Regions from separate parts of the Homo sapiens genome. Here all the other regions are reported to be linked to region 3. Evidence: microRNA targets listed by miRTarBase, many of them from high-throughput screens and not tested one by one. Region 3 holds a microRNA gene; each other region holds the end of a gene's coding sequence.

Evidence for each region. Region 3 holds the annotated microRNA hsa-miR-184 (UGGACGGAGAACUGAUAAGGGU, at 1,431-1,452, shown strand). A microRNA usually pairs through its seed, bases 2 to 8, with sites in the 3' UTR of a target mRNA and lowers its output. Matches are read on the target gene's strand: a 7mer-m8 pairs with bases 2 to 8, a 7mer-A1 pairs with bases 2 to 7 and ends in A, and an 8mer does both.
Region 1: the mRNA of GPRIN1 is a reported target of hsa-miR-184. The part of its 3' UTR that is shown has no 7-base or 8-base seed match.
Region 2: miRTarBase lists IFFO2 as a target of hsa-miR-184. Seed matches in the 3' UTR shown: 7mer-m8 at 816-822 and 8mer at 2,469-2,476.

Annotation. Positions count from the first base shown.
Region 1 is chr5:176,594,352-176,597,351 of GRCh38, reverse strand. GPRIN1 (G protein regulated inducer of neurite outgrowth 1) reads left to right here. Exons shown (of 2, transcript NM_052899.3): 2 at 1-1,550. The coding sequence ends at 544. CDHR2 (cadherin related family member 2) reads right to left here. Exons shown (of 32, transcript NM_017675.6): 32 at 1,528-1,820. The coding sequence ends at 1,680. Among named protein-coding and RNA genes, the nearest start is that of GPRIN1, 14 kb to the left of the region's middle. RefSeq lists silencers at 88-177, 318-477.
Region 2 is chr1:18,905,967-18,908,966 of GRCh38, reverse strand. IFFO2 (intermediate filament family orphan 2) reads left to right here. Exons shown (of 9, transcript NM_001136265.2): 9 at 301-3,000. The coding sequence ends at 406. Among named protein-coding and RNA genes, the nearest start is that of ALDH4A1, 4.9 kb to the right of the region's middle.
Region 3 is chr15:79,208,410-79,211,751 of GRCh38, forward strand. It overlaps MIR184 (microRNA 184), which reads left to right and starts at 1,379; the gene lies at 1,379-1,462. All of the region lies in intron 1 of ANKRD34C-AS1 (ANKRD34C antisense RNA 1), which reads right to left.

The DNA of each region.
Region 1 (3,000 bases), not on the chromosome of region 3:
CATGTCTCCGCAGGACGGCGCTGGGGGCTCGGCCTTCAGCTTCCAGGCGGCGCCGCGCGCGCCCAGCCCGCCCTCGCGCCGAGATGCGGGCCTGCAGGTGTCGCTGGGCGCCGCCGAGACGCGCTCCGTGGCCACTGGGCCCATGACACCTCAAGCCGCCGCGCCGCCCGCCTTCCCCGAAGTGCGGGTGCGGCCCGGCTCAGCGCTGGCGGCCGCTGTAGCGCCCCCGGAGCCGGCTGAGCCCGTGCGAGACGTGAGCTGGGACGAGAAGGGCATGACGTGGGAGGTATACGGCGCCGCCATGGAGGTGGAGGTGCTGGGCATGGCCATCCAGAAGCATCTGGAGCGACAGATCGAGGAGCACGGCCGCCAAGGGGCGCCCGCGCCGCCGCCCGCCGCCCGTGCCGGCCCCGGCCGTTCGGGCTCGGTGCGCACCGCGCCCCCAGATGGCGCCGCCAAGCGTCCGCCCGGCCTGTTCCGCGCGCTGCTGCAGAGTGTGCGCCGGCCGCGGTGCTGCTCGCGGGCGGGACCCACGGCCGAGTGATCTGCCCCCATTTTGTACGCCCGAGTTTCCGACCTTCTCAGGCTCCCTTCTTGATCACAGGCCCCTAGAAGGGGTCCCCTCTGCGTGCCACAGGCCTCCGAGGGGTTGTGCAGCCTCTAGGGCTGTTGCGTCCCCGTCTTTCCAGCCCCTCCCATCACAAATACAGAAGAACCCCTTCTACCAAGCTCCCTCGTGGCCACGAGGCCACGAACCCGGCCAGCCCTGACGCCCCACTGTCCCCTCACAGCCCTCAGCTCTACTCCCGGTCACACTGGGCGACCACGGGGGCCTGCTCAGCACCCTCACCTCCCACCCCCTGAGAGCTGGGGCAGGCTCCTGAGATGTCTAGACTGGTGCGTTGTGGTCTCCGGTGGGGCCAGATCCCCAGAACAGGGAGAGACTGCATACAAGTCTGAGTGGCAGAAGCTTCAAGTGGGTGAGGATCGGTGTGTGAGACCCGCGAGTGGGCACGTCTCTGAATGTGAGGTCTCGGGCAGCACGTGAGGTAGAACGAGTGTGAGCGTCTCCACGCAGTGGCTGGCCCCGTGGCCGGGGCGTCTCTTGCATGCTGTTGGTGGTCCTTCCCCAGTTCCTATCTCCCACCCGCCTGGTTCCAGCCCCATCCCCTCTCCCACTGAGTCACAGGTTTGAGATTCCCAGAGAGGCCAAAGACAGCTACAGGAAGTACCCTGGGGGCTCAGCTGAGAGAGAGTCACAGAAAGGCCAGAGGGTCTCAGGAAGGTCTGGAGGTCACAGCTGGGCTCACAGAAGCTCTTGGGCCCTGGCATCCTGGGTGACCGGTGTTCTTGGGTATTGGGGACAGGACAGAGAGCTCATTCTATAACCACAGTTGTCTTTTAAAGGCCACCCTCTCCAGCCCCTTGTCCCCCCTGTGCTGTGAGCCCAAGTCCCTTGTGACCACTCAGTGTCCCGTCCCCACCCCTCCAGCCGCAGTTTTTGGCTACAAACTGTCACAGTATACATTGGTAATAAAATATTTCCCCAACCCCTGTCTGCCGTGATTGGCCAAAAGCAGGAGGCAGGGCAGCGTCATATATTTTCATCTCCAGGGAGACAGGTGCAGTTAGGGTGTGGTAGGGCCTCTTCAAGGGGTCCAGAAGAGTGGGGGCCCCTGTCACAGGTCCGTGGTGTCCAGGCCAGCGTTGGTGTAGGATGGCCCCTCCAGCTGTCCACTTGCGCCTGCCTGCCGTCCTAACAGGACCACGCTCAGGGGCTCTGGATCTGGCTCTGGTGGTGTGTGTGGTGGCCTGTGCTCCTGCAGGGAGAGGGAGAGGAGGTGTGAAGGGCAAGGCAAGGTGGGGCGAGTGCCCCAGGCCCTAGGGGAGTGGATGGGCTTCAAGCTCACGACCAGTGGTTCCTTGGCAGGGGTCCCACCCTGCCCCTCCTGGGGCCTCTGGTCCAGGCTGTGTCCCAGAGGTGGCCCTGGCTAATGGTGATGCAGATTAGGGGAGGGGGAGGGTGTGGCCTGGGGGATTCACTCTTGCCTTTGCCCTGCCCACCAACACTGCGGCACTCTGCCGTTCAGCCCAGTTCCAAATAATGCCAGGCCCTGTGTCCTGTGCCGAGGAGCCAGCCCAGCGCAGTTCCTGCCCCCTGTACCCCACGGCAGGCACCGTGTGGGTTGAGGTCCATCCATTACCTCAACTACCCACTGAAACCCTCTGAGGGAGGGAACATGTCCTCTCTTCACAGATGTGGAAACTGAGGCTTAGAGAGGTCTACTGGTGAAGAGGGGCAGACCACTGGTCTTGCTGGTTCAAAAGCGTGTCCATGATGTGACACTGCCCTGGTTGAATTTGACGTCTCTTTTTGCTGCCCTCAGAGGGACGCTGCCCACAGGCTGGTCCCACCTGCAGTTTATCATGGCACACACTCACTCATCTCTCCCGCCCTTCCTCTTCCACCTCGCCATGCGACATGCTGTGTGCGTGCACACACACACACACCCTCCTGTGGAACAGCCAGGCCCCCAAGCTCAGCTGCTCTGCTACAGAGACACCCACAGGGCCAGAGCCCCGGCCACCACCGCCCTCCCCAGGGCACTCCAAGGGCTTTTTCCAGACTGGGGCTGTTCTGGTCCCTAGTAAACAGTGGAACATCCGAGGGGCCCCAGAGGGGCTAAGCATTCTGCCTGTGTTCCTCAGAGCCCTCAAGACAGACCCCAAGTGGAGAGCTGCAGGCTCAGTGCCACCCACGATAACATGACCTGGTGCCAGAGACCAAAGACCTGGGTTCTGGTCTGCCCCTGCCCTGCAAGCTGTCCCACTTTGAGCAAGTCAGCACCCCTCTCTGGATGTGAATTTCCTTGCTGGTTACTTGGGGAGGTTAGAGTGATAATCTCTCCAGCCACTCACACCTACCACACAGACGTGTGGAGCTTAGACAAGTCAGGGCACCAAGAGATTCCTGGGAAAAGGATCCACCTGCGCCACCCC
Region 2 (3,000 bases), not on the chromosome of region 3:
CTATATGCCCAGACATGGGTTAGGTGCTTGGAGAGTAACAGCCAAACTTGATCCACGGTCCAGCTCCCAAGGGGCTTTCTTCCTAGAGAAGCCAACACAGCCAGACCAAGTAGGGGCTGGTGCAGGGGGTTACCTCGTGAGCTTAAAGGATCTTAAGGATAGCTGAGTGAGGCAGGAGCTCAGGACCAGGCCCCTCTGAGAGTAGATCTTATAGAAGTGGCAGCTCAGCCTTCCCACTCCTTGACCCTTCAGAGGCCCAGGGCTGCTCTCTGAATTTCCCCACTCTCTTGTGCTTCTCAGGAATTCACCGTCCCCCAGCTCCGTGGCCAGCAGCGACTCAGGAAGTACAGATGAGATCCAGGATGAGTTCGAGCGCGAGGCGGATGTGGAGCCCATGGTCAGCTGATGACTGAGGCCCTGCGAGCCTGGTGGTCTTGGTGATGGGGCCCTGCCACCTCTCCTCATGGGGCCAGGAAGGCCCCTCGGAGTGGGGTTCGAAGCCACACCACACAGACTTTCTCTGCCCTCCCTTCTCTGGAGGCCCTGAGGGACTGCTGCTTCCTTCCTTCCTTCCACACCACCAACGGGTGCCCCGTCTCCATCCCCCACCCACCCAAGGAATGGTGCTGTCAATTTCTATTGTTCTCCACATTACAAATGCAGACTTCTGTGCGGACTTTGCAGTGTTAACTGTGCCTTCTCCCTTAAGCTGAGCCACTTTGAGCTCCAAAGAATTATTCCTAGCAGGTGTTTTTATACAGAACTCTAAGCTGAGGGCCGGGCCAACCGGCCGTGGTGTAATGTGGTTTCTGCCGTCCGTCCCACCTGCTCCTCTGATTGGCCATGGGCTATGCCCTCCCTTCCTCCTGAGCCAGCCCAGACTCGGCCTGGAGCTTGGGGTGCTCTGCCAACCCCCAGGAAGGAGCCGCTTGCCTCTGTGAGCTTTCTAGGCCTGGGTAGGGACCACCCCAATTTTCTCACTCCCTGAAGGAGAGAAAGGTGGAAGGAAGGGAAGGAGGACACATTTTAATTTTTTGGGGGGATCGAGTGGCAAAGTTGAAGGGACAAGGCACTGTGAGGGGAAGGCAGAGCCTCACTGTGTTTAAACTACTATGCAAAAAACAAAACAAACAACAAAAGCAGCTTGCCTTATATCATTGTGGAAGGCAGGACCTCTCCTGGGCTCCTGGCTTCCCCCTGGAGCTGGGAGAGAGGCCGGGGTTAGGGTGATCTGTGTGGCAGCACTGACTGGGTAGTGTGGGTTTGGCCGAGGTTGGTCATGAGGCTGGGGTTCCCGCAAGGCACTGGCCTCCCTGACCGCTTGCTTCCTTCCGGACCTCTGGGTTCAGGGCGGGGGCGGAGGGATCCTTGATTTCCCTGATAACTTGATGTTCTTCCCTCCCTCGCCAGCCAACAATAGAGGCTTAGAGATCTGTAATTTCTCTGTGAGAAAGTCTGAAGGGGCCAGGCCTGGTCTCTGCTCCCTTCTACCCGCCTTGGGTTAGGACTGTCCGGCAGTTGCCTGCTTTTGGCTGCTGGCAGGAGAGAAGCAGGGTGGGCTGCTGGCAGTGCAGGAGCTGGAGTGAGGGCCATCCTCTTTCTGCTCCTCGACACACGCAAGCCGCTCTCAGCAGTTCCCTCGACTGGCCAGTCGGGGTATTGATCTGAGCCAGCATCCCCCAAGACTTGAATGGCTTGAGTGGGACTGCGTTGAAGGGCACTGTGTGGCCCCCTTCCAAATCTCAGCTTGGAGCCAGCTGAGCAGGCTTTGCTTTATTATTATTTTTTAAGCCTACTGCAGTGGGTCTGTTGCCAATTTTAATTTTTTATTGTCCCAGGAGCTCCCTCTAGTGGTCAAGGTAGCAAAATGTGCCCAAGGACTAGAACTTGGGTCCCTCTGCCTTGCCTGGAGGCAGAAGGAGGGGGCTCTGGGTTTGACTGGGATTGTGGTCCCCAGGGGTCCGTGGCCTTTAAGGCTCTTCTCTCTTTTCTGTTTCCCCCACCTGTGTTACAGTCTTAAAAATACTGTACATAAAAGATATATGTAGAGAGAGAGAGAGAGCGTGAGAATGTGTTAGTGACTATGTGTGATGTAATTTATCACGATTTGGTGGCCTTCGTCATGAGTTTTTTCCTTTGTTTTCTTTTGCTGGGGGCACCTCCCACGGGTCCCCTGTGGCAGTCTGGCTGTGACACTTCCATAGTCAGCATCTCTTGTTAGCCAAACAGTTCCCTTTGACAGGTACTTGGAGGGACAATGGTTTTGGAAGAGAGACGGCCCTTCTCTCTCCTCACTCACCCTTGTTCTAAAGGTTACAGGGTTCAAACATACCTGATTCTTGTTGTTATTGTTGTTGAATTTTTATTTTAACCAAAGGTTATCAGAGCCAGTTGGGCTTGGACCTCAGCTGCTAAAAAGATTTTCCGTTTCCTCGAGGGCAGGAAAACATCCACCCTCGTGGGTCTCCTCCGTCCAGGGCCGAGGGAGGCATTGGACAATGTGGTATGGGAGTTTCGTGGGCAGCGTGGAAGCCGGCCCTGGGTTGTTCCCCAAGGTGGTGGGAGGGTGACAGATATATCTTTAGACTTAAGACTGTAAGGCAGCAGTGTTAGCATGGGAGTAACTAAGGTTACTGTGGTTATCGGTGTCCGGCGGTATTATTTTTACTTTCCTCCTTGTATACATAGGTCATTTGTCTTTGAGGACTAGGGTACTCTAGGGAGTTTGAAAACTGCAGGAGCCAGAAAGAGATCCTGGCCTGAGAGTCCCTTCTGGCTGGCTTTTAATATCTGCTCTCCTCTTGGGAGTGAGGACTTGGGGCAGGTGGGTAGGAGAGGGAAAGCCAGAGTGTGATGGGCCTGCCTCCTGGGCTGGTTCCTGGGTCCGGCCTGCCTGCCTGCCTGCCTGCCTCTCCACCACATGCTTTTTTCAGTTAATGTCAGTGGGCCCTGCTTGTCCCCTCACCATGAGCCCACAGCTTGCCAAGAAAGACCCCAACG
Region 3 (3,342 bases):
ATTTTCTTGTTAATGATATCAGCTACACATCTTTTAAATTCTCCATGCTAAGGGCTTTTTATAGCTCATCTAATTGAACTTTTACCACAACCCTGTAAATTTGGGTGATCACAGCCATTTTGCAGATCTGGAAACGGATCTGAGAGGCTGAGTGATTCTCTGTCAATGAACCAGCAAATGACAAATTCAGGATTTAAATCCAGACCAGTTTTACTATAAAGACCAAGCCCTTAACCTTATATTGAATATTTTAATCCTCAAAACAACCCTTTGAGGTAGCTTTTATAACCCACATTTTGCCGAATAAATCACTGAGATTTGGAGAGTTTATAAGACCTGCTGAAGCTATGTAACCAGGAGGTGGCTGACCTGGGATTTAAACCTAGGGGTGAGCATAAGCTCTTTCCATCCGTTTTCTCGCTTACTTCCCACAGCAATCCTGGGAGTTAAGGAGGTACTATCTCTGTTTAGTATATCAGGAAATCAAGGCTCAGAGAGATTCAGTAATTTTCTCAGGGTTACACAACCAGGAAGTGGCAAGCAGATGGGATCCAAAGTTGGTGGTCGTCCCACAGTGTAATACTATACAGAAATCCATTTCTGAAATCTGGACGGGTTTTCTTTGGTTTCATTCCGATACACAGAATCATGTTAAGACCTCCACATTTGAAGCCATGTCAATAGTTTTTGGTTTTCAAAGACTCTGTATGAATCAGCGTGGAAGGTCAAACAGTTAAGACGGAAGAATCTGACATGATGGGGCAGAGAGCTTGGATACATGAGAACGCGCTTACCTTTGGAACCAAACTCCACCCTGGCCTAATCCCATCAAGGCCACGCAGCACAGTGGACACATCCAGCTCGCAGATTTGTGGCTGATGGGTCCTGGCCTGGGGCCAGCCTCTCTGGAGGACCAATCCTGGTTGGAGGAGGAGACTTGCTGTAGGGACTTTATGAATGGCATGTGGGTGTGGGCTTAGCCCAGAGCCCTGGGGAGGAGCAGGACCTGCTGGGCTGGGGCCTCAGACCTGCAAGAGCCACTGGGTAAAGACTTCACTAACTTCGGCTTATTTATTAATTTTAAAATTTAAATTAATTTCTATTTTTAATTGATTTTTTTTAATGCAAAGAACCTATTACTTTCCATAGCTGTCCAGAGCTGCATGTCTGAATTTCTGTGTGCAGAAACATAAGTGACTCTCCAGGTGTCAGAGGGAGAGACTGGGGCGAGAGGCCAGAGCAAAGTAGAAGGGCACAGAGGGGCTTTGAATTTGAGGCAGAGGAGGAACTGCAGAGAGGGGGCGGGGAGGGCTCGCCGGGAAATCAAACGTCCATTTACATCTTGTCCTGCAAAGCTTCATCAAAACTTCTTTGCCGGCCAGTCACGTCCCCTTATCACTTTTCCAGCCCAGCTTTGTGACTGTAAGTGTTGGACGGAGAACTGATAAGGGTAGGTGATTGACACTCACAGCCTCCGGAACCCCCGCGCCGCCTGCACTTGCGTGATGGGGAAAACCTGGCGTTCCCGCTCTGGGTGCCCGAGGACAGCAGGGGATTCCAGGAGGAGACCTTGGGCATAGGGGGCCCAGGTATGCGCCCCCTGCCTGAGGATGCTGGGGTAGCCTTTGTGTTTTGTCAGTGAGATCTCCACTTTGCTTATTCAAAATGTGCTCTCTGCGACTGGGTTTAGGGTCTCCCCTTGAGAAAAGCGGTTGGGTGGTTGGTGAGGGAAGGGGGCTTATTCCACAGACTTCTTTATAAGGTGAATAAAGGGGTATAGGACTTTTTGGAATTTTAGGTACTCTTGCTTAAAAAAAAAAAAAGGGAGAGCAGGAATTTCCGTCTGATTTGAGGGAAAGTCCCTTTCCAGACATTTTCTTCAGCTGACAGCTACTCACCAAATGCTTTTGTCTTTTTCGGTTTATAGGAACCATGTGCTGAGACAGAAGGTTTCATGACTCTAACTAAACTTATATTCTATTACATTAAAGATGGTTATTTATTACGTTGTTGATTCAGAATGATCTTTTATAACTCATAATTACTTATACCAAATCAAACTCAATAAATGTCTTAATTGGCACATTGCAGTAACGGACTGACACATAAGCAAGTCTATACACCTGTGTGTAAAGATGTAAAACCACAGATAAAAATTCCTGTAACTACAAATGCTTCTATTTCCTGGAATGTGAATACAGATTAACATGCAATGGATTGCATCTCAGCTGAACAGGTACTTTTTTCTTTTCTTTTCTGCAATTAAATATTATGATTTTACTTAAAGAGTAAATACAGTTTTAAAGTTAAATGAAGGTGGTAGATGAACACAGTGGTTCTCAGCCTTAGCTGCTTGTTGGAGTCACCTGGGAGTTTTGAAGGGTCCTGATGCATGGCAAATTACATCAGAATCTTCAGGATGTGGCTGGGCAAGAGTAGGTTTGAGAACCGTGCAAAAATAATGTGAATTAAGGCATTTAGTGTTCACATGGGGGCCTTCTCACTTTAATGCAGGAGTATATAAGCTTGGCTATCTGATACTGATGCCTGGATCTCATTCCCAGAGATTCTGATTTAATTGGTCCAGGGTGTGGCCTGGGCACTGTAGCTGTGCCAGGTGATTGCAAGATACAGTTGAGGCTTTGAATATACAGCTGTAATGCCCCCTGACAACTGTGAAAGTCCCAGCACTTAGATTGGCTGGGCTCTCAACTTCTGGTATGATCCTCCACATGTCTTTAACTTTTACGATGCCTCAGTTTCCTTTAAAGCAAACTGGAACCTGAGATGATGGGTGGAATGAATGTCCCCTCAGAGCCTTTCCTGCTCTTCAAGGTGACTGAGGCCCAAGAGTGCTTTCATGAGATTGCAGTTACTGATGAGACTCAGCACTTGTGTGTCTTGGCTCTGGGTTCAAGAGTGTGGAGAGCGGCTCAGGTGGCCATGGGATGGATAGGCAGAGGCGGCTGGGAGGAGCGGAGAGTCCGGCCCAGAGACTCAGCCACCTCCTTCAGACAGAAAGGGGCCAGTTAGGGGCTGGCTGGACAGTGAAGGTGTTGATAAAAAGGGGCTGAGTGTTCCCCACCCTCTGGTGGACATATGATGTTGGATATCTCAGGTAGTCACCTGGTGAGACACTGTTGGGCTCAGAACTATAATAAAAACAGAATACATGTCTTTGCAGTTGATTCTCCAAAGGTTTTATTTTGTTTTTATAGTTCCTCATAACTCTGTCTTTATGCGGCATAAGTGTGTTTCCAATTCTTTTTTGGACTGGTCCAAAAACATACATGTGGAAAGATTTAAAAAATCCTGCATCATCCTTTGGATTATAAGAATATT